Regions from separate parts of the Homo sapiens genome. Here region 2 is linked to region 1. Evidence: fine-mapped expression QTL. A gene starts in region 1. The other region holds a variant in brackets. All regions are shown on one strand. Distances are between the middles of the regions.

Evidence for each region. PIP is the estimated chance that this variant, and not a neighbour inherited with it, causes the effect. A credible set is the group of variants that fine-mapping cannot tell apart.
Region 2: its variant is the best candidate, but not a certain one, in a credible set for the expression of INCENP in left ventricle (GTEx, PIP 0.58).

Annotation. Positions count from the first base shown.
Region 1 is chr11:62,121,835-62,125,834 of GRCh38, reverse strand. INCENP (inner centromere protein) reads right to left here and starts at 1,824. Exons shown (of 19, transcript NM_001040694.2): 1 at 1,672-1,824. LOC124902681 (a long non-coding RNA gene) reads left to right here and starts at 2,124. Exons shown (of 2, transcript XR_007062697.1): 1 at 2,124-2,178. RefSeq lists enhancers at 953-1,534, 1,524-1,593, 2,124-2,213.
Region 2 is chr11:63,077,166-63,081,689 of GRCh38, reverse strand. It overlaps SLC22A24 (solute carrier family 22 member 24), which reads left to right. Exons shown (of 10, transcript NM_001136506.2): 8 at 24-132; 9 at 567-770; 10 at 1,690-1,750. The coding sequence ends at 1,750. Among named protein-coding and RNA genes, the nearest start is that of SLC22A8, 64 kb to the right of the region's middle. The variant G/A (reference allele first, on the strand shown) is at 2,139.

The DNA of each region.
Region 1 (4,000 bases):
GCTCTCTGAGGGCAAACCCCTGTCTGTCTTGCTCATCGTTGAATGCCCAGAGCACAGCAGTGCCTGGCAACAAGGACTATTTGTTAAATGAATTAATCCACCCATCAACTCTACACCTAGAAATAAACATCCTATAGGTGCTCATCCCACCACACAAAGGGCACCAAATAAACTTAATCTGCACAGGTTAGAACTGACCAACACATGTTCAAAACCCCTGTTCCCAGATGCCAAGGGCAGCAATAATCAGGGCAGGGCCAAATGGGCAGGATCGTACAGGCTTTGGGCTGAAACCTCGGCTCTGCAGCCAGCCAATCATGGGCAAGCCCTTTTCACTGTCATCCCTCACCTTCCCCTAACCCTTCTGCACCCAGACCACAGCCCTGGCAAAGCGCAGGACCTCAGGCCAGAAAAGAGAAAACTGTTTAAGGAAGCCAAAGGTTTGCAGAGAAAAGCAACAACTGGCTAACTTTTTAAAAAGTATTTGTTCAAATGGGCAACGTGGATGAGAGCTTCTTTCACAAAGTCCATGAAAGCAATTGGACTTCTTTCACGGGGAGGTTTGCTTCTAGCAGACCTTAGCGCAACGATTTAAAAAGGGTTACCGTAAGTTAAAACAGAGGTGACCCTGAAAAAGAAGGAATCAGTGTACCAAGAATCAGGCTCCTGGAAGAGCAGCAAAAATCTCTTCTTCAACCCATGTAAGCACCTGCACACAGATAAAGAGCACTCAACACCTCACCGAGGAAGACACTCTCCAGTCTTCCTCCTCTCCAACACTTCTTCCACACCATACACCAGACTGAAGGCCCCATCGTCCTCCTCTATGACTCCTGTCCTTTTCAGGGTGCTGTAAGTTGGGCGCCTACCACACCTCTGTGCAGAAAGCGCATAGCAGCTGCTCCCATTTACTGAGTCATACTCCATGCCCGAGTCAGACATCATCTCATTTAATTCTCACCACAACCTTGAGGATACGCATGGGCAGATGAGGAAATTGAGGCAAAGAGAAGTCAAAATCAGCCGGTAAATCAGGGGCATAAATAGAACCGTGCCCTTAACCACGGGCTATACCGCCTTTAAACCGTGCCCTTAACCACTGGCTATACCGCCTTCTAGATATCAACTTCTGAAAGGCAGGTGCCCAGTCTTGGCTCTGGGCAACCCCGCGAGCAACCCATGTTAGCTGAATGAGACTGAACCGCTGACAGCGAACAGGCTTGGGGAGTGACAAGGGGCGGCCCAGCCTCCGGAAATGGTCAGTTTAAAATGCTGCTCAGCTGGGGGCGGGGGCGTTGAGAGAGGGGTTTAACTGCACAGAAATGCCATCTGGCATCATTCCGCCAAACAACCGGGTTGGTTTCGGGCTTCCTGCGCGTCCAAGTCAACACTAATCCTCACAGGCACAAGGTGCCAAGCAGCCGGGAGCGGAGGGAACGGGGCTATGCTCTAGGAAGCTGAGGGCCTAGGTGGAAAGGGTGGGAGGCATCTCGGGCCCGAGAACCAAGGCAGGCGACCTCGCCACTTGGAAGAGGTGACCCTCATATGCCCAGGTAGCCAGGGGCTGGGGTGGGGAGTCACGACCCTGGTCCGGAGTCGACAGGGACGGAGCAGAGGACCGGGGAAAAAATCGCGAACCACCCCCCAATCCCCACGCCCACGCGCACTCACTCGACTGCGCCACGTCCCCTGAAGGCTGCTCCGATCCAAGTCCGGTGGTATCCCTAGGTAAGGCCCCGCTTGCCCAGACCCACTTGGCTCCGGGCCTTCGGGACTCACCGCACGGGAGGAGCAACCAGGCGGCGCAGCGCGGGCGAAAACTATGATTTTCAAAACTGAAGGCTCAGCCAATCCTCGGCAAGTTTGTCCGGGCGGTTGCAAAATTTTAAGCCAATCAAATAACAGGAAGTACCAGTCAGCCCTCCTATTGGCCATATCCACTAGCAATCTGCGGGACTAAGAGGCGGGGAAAGGAAGCGAAAGACTTTAAGCCCCCTCAGCTTCCGGGTGCTGCGGCCGCGGCCGAGAGAGGAAGTAGATCCCCGCCTGGGAGGAGCCCGCAGACCTGGAACTACGAGTCCCGGCGAGCACTGCGAAGGCCACGCGCGGCTTTCTTTCTTCTCCAAGCACGGTGGCAGTCTTCTGATCTCTGCTGCTTTTTTTTCCTCATAAAAACATGTATGTATATACTTACATTGCTGAAAGACCAGCTTTTTAATGTAACAAATTATCTAGGTACAGAAGTCATAGGTTCCTCTTCCCATGAGAAAAACATTCCTCAAAATACAAACCAAACAGCATCCCAGAGGGAGTAAAATTTCATTGTACTGAAACATATACAAATTAAGGCTACCTTGGTATATAAACAATTTAGAAATTATGATGGAATAGTTCCACCAAATCATTTACGTATAGGAATTCATGCCATTTTTTAAAGAATTGGTAGTGGGGCTCAATTCAAACAATATTATGCATCCTTACATTCAACTTAATACACTTAGCAGCTATAAGGAGTGTAACTGTAACCCCACTTCCTGAAATCTCAGGAGTAATGTTAAAAATCCAAACCCATCAAAGGCCAGGGTGTTACGGTATTTGGCTCATGAATCGAAAAGCCTAATCATTTCAATTTAATCTTTACAAGTAGAACAAGATCCAAACATGGGACGTTTTCTTATTTTTCTTTGCTTTTGTGGTTGTAATGCCCTTTTGGTTTTCTGAGCAAGCTGAATACATCTGATAAATACTACCATTGGACAAAGGATCTAAACATTGAGATGTTTTACTAAATCAAGGTTTCAAGTTGGCACAATGTTTTTACTAAGTCATATTTCAATTAGTTCATCTTTCCAATATGGAGGCGGGGGGGGAAAGACAAGGACTAATATGTCCTATAAAGAATCTCTGGCCGGCGAGATCCCGCCACTGCACTCCAGCCTGGGCGACAGAGCGAGACTCCGTCTCAAAAAAAAAAAAAAAAAAAAAAAAGAATCTCTGGCCGGGCGCGGTGGCTCACGCCTGCAATCCTAGCACTTTGGGAGGCCGAGGCGGGTGGATTGCCTGAGCTCAGGAGTTCGAGACCAGCCTGGGCAACACAGTGGAACCCTGTCTCTACTAAAATACAAAAAAAAATTAGCCGGGCGTGGTGGCTTGCACCTGTAATCCCAGCGACTCGGGAGGCTGAGACAGGAGAATCGCTTGAACCCGGGAGGCAGAGGTTGCAGTGGGCCGAGATCGCGCCATTGCACTCCAGCCTGGGCCACAAAAAGCAAAAAACTCCGTCTCAAAAAAAAAATCTCTGCCGCTTTTGAGAAGTAAAAACAAAACGCCTTGTGAATGGCAACGGAGTGTGCGTTTATCTAGAGCCTTCTGTCATCTCTTGGGCGACAGAATCCTTGGTCACCTACCCTGGTACTGGACGTTTCTTGAGAGAAGTGGTTCTCATGCAGAGGAGGTTTTATCCCACCTCCGCCCCCCACATTTGGCAGTGTGTGAATTCATTTGGGTTTGGGAGAAGGGGTTAGTGGTATTTGGTGGGTAAAGGCCAGGGATGCTGCTGAACGCCATCTAGTGCATAAGACAGTCCCCACAGCAAGGAATTACCCGGCCCCAGATACCAGAATTGCTGCTGTTGAGAAACTGCTTTAGACAAAGTCACTTTACTCTGTGAGTCAAGGTTGCTGTTACCTGTAAAATAAGGCAGTTCAATCTTGAAGAGATTTGTACATCCACGGTCAGCTACCAACAGATAGTTTACCCTGTTCCCAGGTCGTCTGTAGTATTTTTCCTCTCCCTTTCTTCCCTCTCTTTATCAATTCTGTTTTTGCCTTTGTTATTTTACTCAGTTTACCAACTGACTCCATCATATGTGAGTAAATAATTTGTGAGCAAATTAACTAAACATTTCTGAGTTATTCTTTGAAGAATGTAAATAATTGGAAATCAGCTGAATCATAAAAGGATATGTTACCCAATCGTTAATCATTCTGTTTATTAATTC
Region 2 (4,524 bases), 960 kb before region 1:
CTGATTCTCACTGTTCTCTCTAGAAATGCAGATCCTGCGTGTGGTTTTAGCAACTTTGGGAATTGGTAGTGTTTCTGCTGCTAGCAACAGTGCTTCTGTCCACCACAACGAGCTCGTCCCCACCATATTGAGGTACAAGAGCTAAAGACCATCTGGTTTCAAAACACAAATTTCTGAATTTATTGATATTCATTGTGAATGAAAGACTGACACTGTTTAGGTGCCAGATGAATTAACTGTAATAGAAATGAACAGAGTAACTGAGAGCCATATATGTGCTATTATTATCAAATTATCAAAGCTGCGGGTTATTGCTACAGGTTAATTAATGCTATGGGTATCTCTATTTTAGTAATTATGAAACTAAGGTTAAGAGCAGTTACCAACATTATACTATCAAATAGGTAGAAACCAACAGAGGTAAATGTCACAATTAAGGGCTTGCTGTCAAAGCCCATGTGTTTAGTAACTCTGTTGTACTGGTCCCCATAAAGAAATAATGATGATAAAGAGCTGACATGTACAGATTCATACAAGATTTTTTGTATTGTTATTTGCACTCTAAGGTCAACAGTTGCAGGAATCAATGCAGTGTCCGGTAGGACTGGGGCAGCACTGGCTCCTCTGTTGATGACCTTAATGGCGTATTCTCCCCACCTACCCTGGATTTCCTATGGAGTCTTCCCCATCCTTGCTGTCCCTGTTATCCTCCTCCTTCCAGAAACCAGGGATCTACCTCTTCCTAACACCATCCAGGATGTGGAAAATGAGTGAGTAAACCCTCTAGCTGTCACTTGAGTGGGGAGTGGCTATGTGCTGTAGCTGTTTAATGAGAAAGGTCAACGACCATTTGGGGCCCTCTGTCCTTCATGTAGGCTCAGACCTAGGACTTTTCTATTTGTCACCATGTCCTTTAGTTCAGTAGCAGCCTACCCTATCCACAATGGAGTCAGACTCTTGAGGCCCTCTATGTCACACAGACCATTTCACACCAGAAGGTTCAGTGGTGAAAAGATCCAAATTAGCCTATTATGAGTGGCACATACTTTCTGCCCTTGTGGGAAACACACACTCCTGTTGTTTTCTCACAAATCTGCTAAGACTCAAATGCCTCATTCTCATCCCCTGGTTTTATCACACATTGGCTCAATGAGTGCCTGTTATGTGGTGGGAAAGGGAATGAGATTGCCTCATACCTAATTATTGCTTCAGTCAAAGAATCATGGGACTACAGCATAGAGCAAAATCTCCTTTGCAAAAATAACGATGTATCTGAAGGAAATGGATCTTGTTGGGATGCCTCTGAGATTTAGGCAAATTTGTTGCCATGGGCAACAGAAATTTTGAGGAGACAAAATTAAGAAAAGAAAGCAGGATTTTAAATGATGAAAAATAAGACAATAGCTTTAAAATTTTCAATTCTCGCTTTGATTTACTAAAGATGTCATTGGTCTGAGATCCAAAGAGACAATGGTGAGAGTATCAATATTCAACACTGCCTTCCCAGGAATGCCCAGGTATCAGGGCCTTTTCCAACACAATAGTATCAATATCTAGAGAATCTTGGATTACAATGCTGGTGGGTAGAGGGCAGCTTGTCCTCAGGCACACAGTATATATATGCTTAATCTATATCTTATTTATTTTTTGTTTCTTAATCTTGTTTTTGTTTGCATTTCTATTTCTCAGCAGAAAAGATTCAAGAAACATAAAGCAGGAAGATACTTGCATGAAAGTAACACAGTTTTAAGAGATTCCCAAGACCTGATCCAAAGAAGAGCAAAATGGGCAGGGGGAATCAAGATTATGCCTTTATATCTGCAAAACTAGCCAAAAATATAATGTGCAGACAGATGCCATTTATAATTATGGTACTACATGTATCAGTAATTCCAAAATACCTTATAAGTTTAAGTGATTCCATGAAATAATGATTTGCTTTTGGGAAGAAGTTGCACAACTAGTTTCAAATTCATCTGAAAATCACTAACAGCCAAGATGATTCAGGAAAAAGAGCATCATGGAGTGACGATCAGGCTGACTCATATACGGTAAAGCACATGCTGGACTTTTTATAAAACTACAATCAACAAAACAGTAATAGCAAATGCATTATAATTTGTTTGCATTAACACACC[G/A]TAATGACTCCAGAAACATGCCCAAGTATACAGAAAGAGTCTTCAAAAAATTCATGAAAATGCATATTATGAGTAAACTATGCATAGAGTTCAAATTTTTGTGCCAAAATAAATCTGTACTAATTTTTTATAACATGGCTGAACAGGATCTATTTTGAAGCACTAAGAAGGATAAGATGTTTGTGTGAAAAAAGCTGTTATCCAAGGAACACAAATTCTGCTGAAATAGAAGCAAGAACAAACATCAAATTTATGGTGAAACTTAGGTGGAAGAATGGTGAAATCATTGAGACTTTACAAAAAGTTTATGGGGACAATGCTCCAGAGAAATTAGTAGTTTACAAATGGATAATGCATTTTTAAAAGAGATGAGACAATGTTGAAGATGAATTCCTTAGCAGCAGAACATCCACATCAATTTGCAAGGAAAAAATAATTTAGAGAAGGCAGCCAAGATGGCCAAATAGCAACAGCTTGAGTCTACAGCTCCCAGCATGAGTGATGCAGAAGACGGGTGATTTCTGCATTTCCATCTGAGGTACCAGGTTCATCTCACTAGGGAGTGCCAGACAGTGGGCACAGGACAGTGGGTGCAGTGCATCGTGCGTGAGCCAAAGCAGGGTGAGGCACTGCCTCACTCGGGAAGTGTGAGGGGTCAGGGAGTTCCCTTTCCTAGTCAAAGAAAGGGGTGACAGACGGCACCTGGAAATTCGGGTCACTCCCACCCGAATACTGCGCTTTTCCAATGGGCTTAAAAAAACGGTGCACCAGGAGATTATATCCCGCACCTGGCTCAGAGGGTCCTACCCACATGGAGTCTCACTGATTGCCAGCACAGCAGTCTGAGATCAAACTGCAAGGCAGCAGTGAGGCTGGGGGAGGGGCGCCCGCCATTGCCCAGGCTTGCTTAGGTAAACAAAGCAGCCAGGAAGCTCGAACTGGGTGGAGCCCACCACAGCTCAAGGAGGCCTGCCTGCCTCTGTAGGCTCCACCTCTGGGGACAGGGCACAGACAAACAAAAAGACAGCAGTAACCTCTGCAGACTTAAATTTCCCTGTCTGACAGCTTTGAAGAGAGCAGTGGTTCTCCCAGCACACAGCTGGAGATCTGAGAATGGGCAGACTGCCTCCTCAAGTGGGTCCCTGACCCCTGACCCCCGAGCAGCCTAACTGGGAGGCACCCCCCAGTAGGGGCAGACTGACACCTCACACAGCCAGGTAGTCCTCTGAGACAAAACTTCCAGAGGAACAATCAGACAGCAGCATTCGCGGTTCACTAAAATCCGCAGTTCTGCAGCCACCGCTGCTGATACCCAGGCAAACAGGGTCTGGAGTGGACCTCCGCAAACTCCAACAGACATGCAGCTGAGGGTCCTGTCTGTTAGAAGGAAAACTAACAAACAGAAAGGACATCCACACCAAAAACCAATCTGTACATCACCATCATCAAAGACCAAAAGTAGATAAAACCACAAAGATGGGGAAAAAACAGAGCAGAAAAACTGGAAACTCTAAAACGCAGAGTGCCTCTCCTCCTCCAAAGGAGCACAGCTCCTCACCGGCAATAGAACAAAGCTGGATGGTGAATGACTTTGATGAGTTGAGAGAAGAAGGCTTCAGATGATCAAACTACTCCAAGCTACAGGAGGAAATTCAAACCAAAGGCAAACAAGTTAAAAACTTTGAAAAAAATTTAGATGAATGTATAATTAGAATAACCAATATAGAGAAGTGCTTAAAGGAGCTGACGGAGCTGAAAGCCAAGGCTTGAGAACTACGTGAAGAATGCAGAAGCCTCAGGAGCTGATGCAATCAACTGGAAGAAAGGGTATCAGTGATGGAAGATGAAATGAATGAAATGAAGTGAGAAGGGAAGTTTAGAGAAAAAAAGAATAAAAAGAAATGAACAAAGCCTCCAAGAAATATGGGACTATGTGAAAAGACCAAATCTACGTCTGATTGGTGTACTTGAAAGTGATGGGGAGAATGGAACCAAGTTGGAAAACACTCTGCAGGATATTATCCAGGAGAACTTCCCCAATCTAGCAAGGCAGGCCAACATTCAGATTCAGGAAATACAGAGAATGCCACAAAAACACTCCTCGAGAAGAGCAACTCCAAAACACATAATTGTCAGATTCACCAAAGTTGAAATGAAGGAAAAAATGATAAGGGCAGCCAGAGAGAAAGGTCGGGTTAGCCACAAAGGGAAGCCCATCAGACTAACAGCAGATCTCTCGGAAGAAACTCTACAAGCCAGAAGAGAGTGGGGGCCAATATTCAACATTCTTAAAGAAAAGAATTTTCAACCGAGAATTTCATATCTAGCCAAACTAAGCTTCATAAGTGAAGGAGAAATAAAATACTTTACAGATAAGCAAATGCTG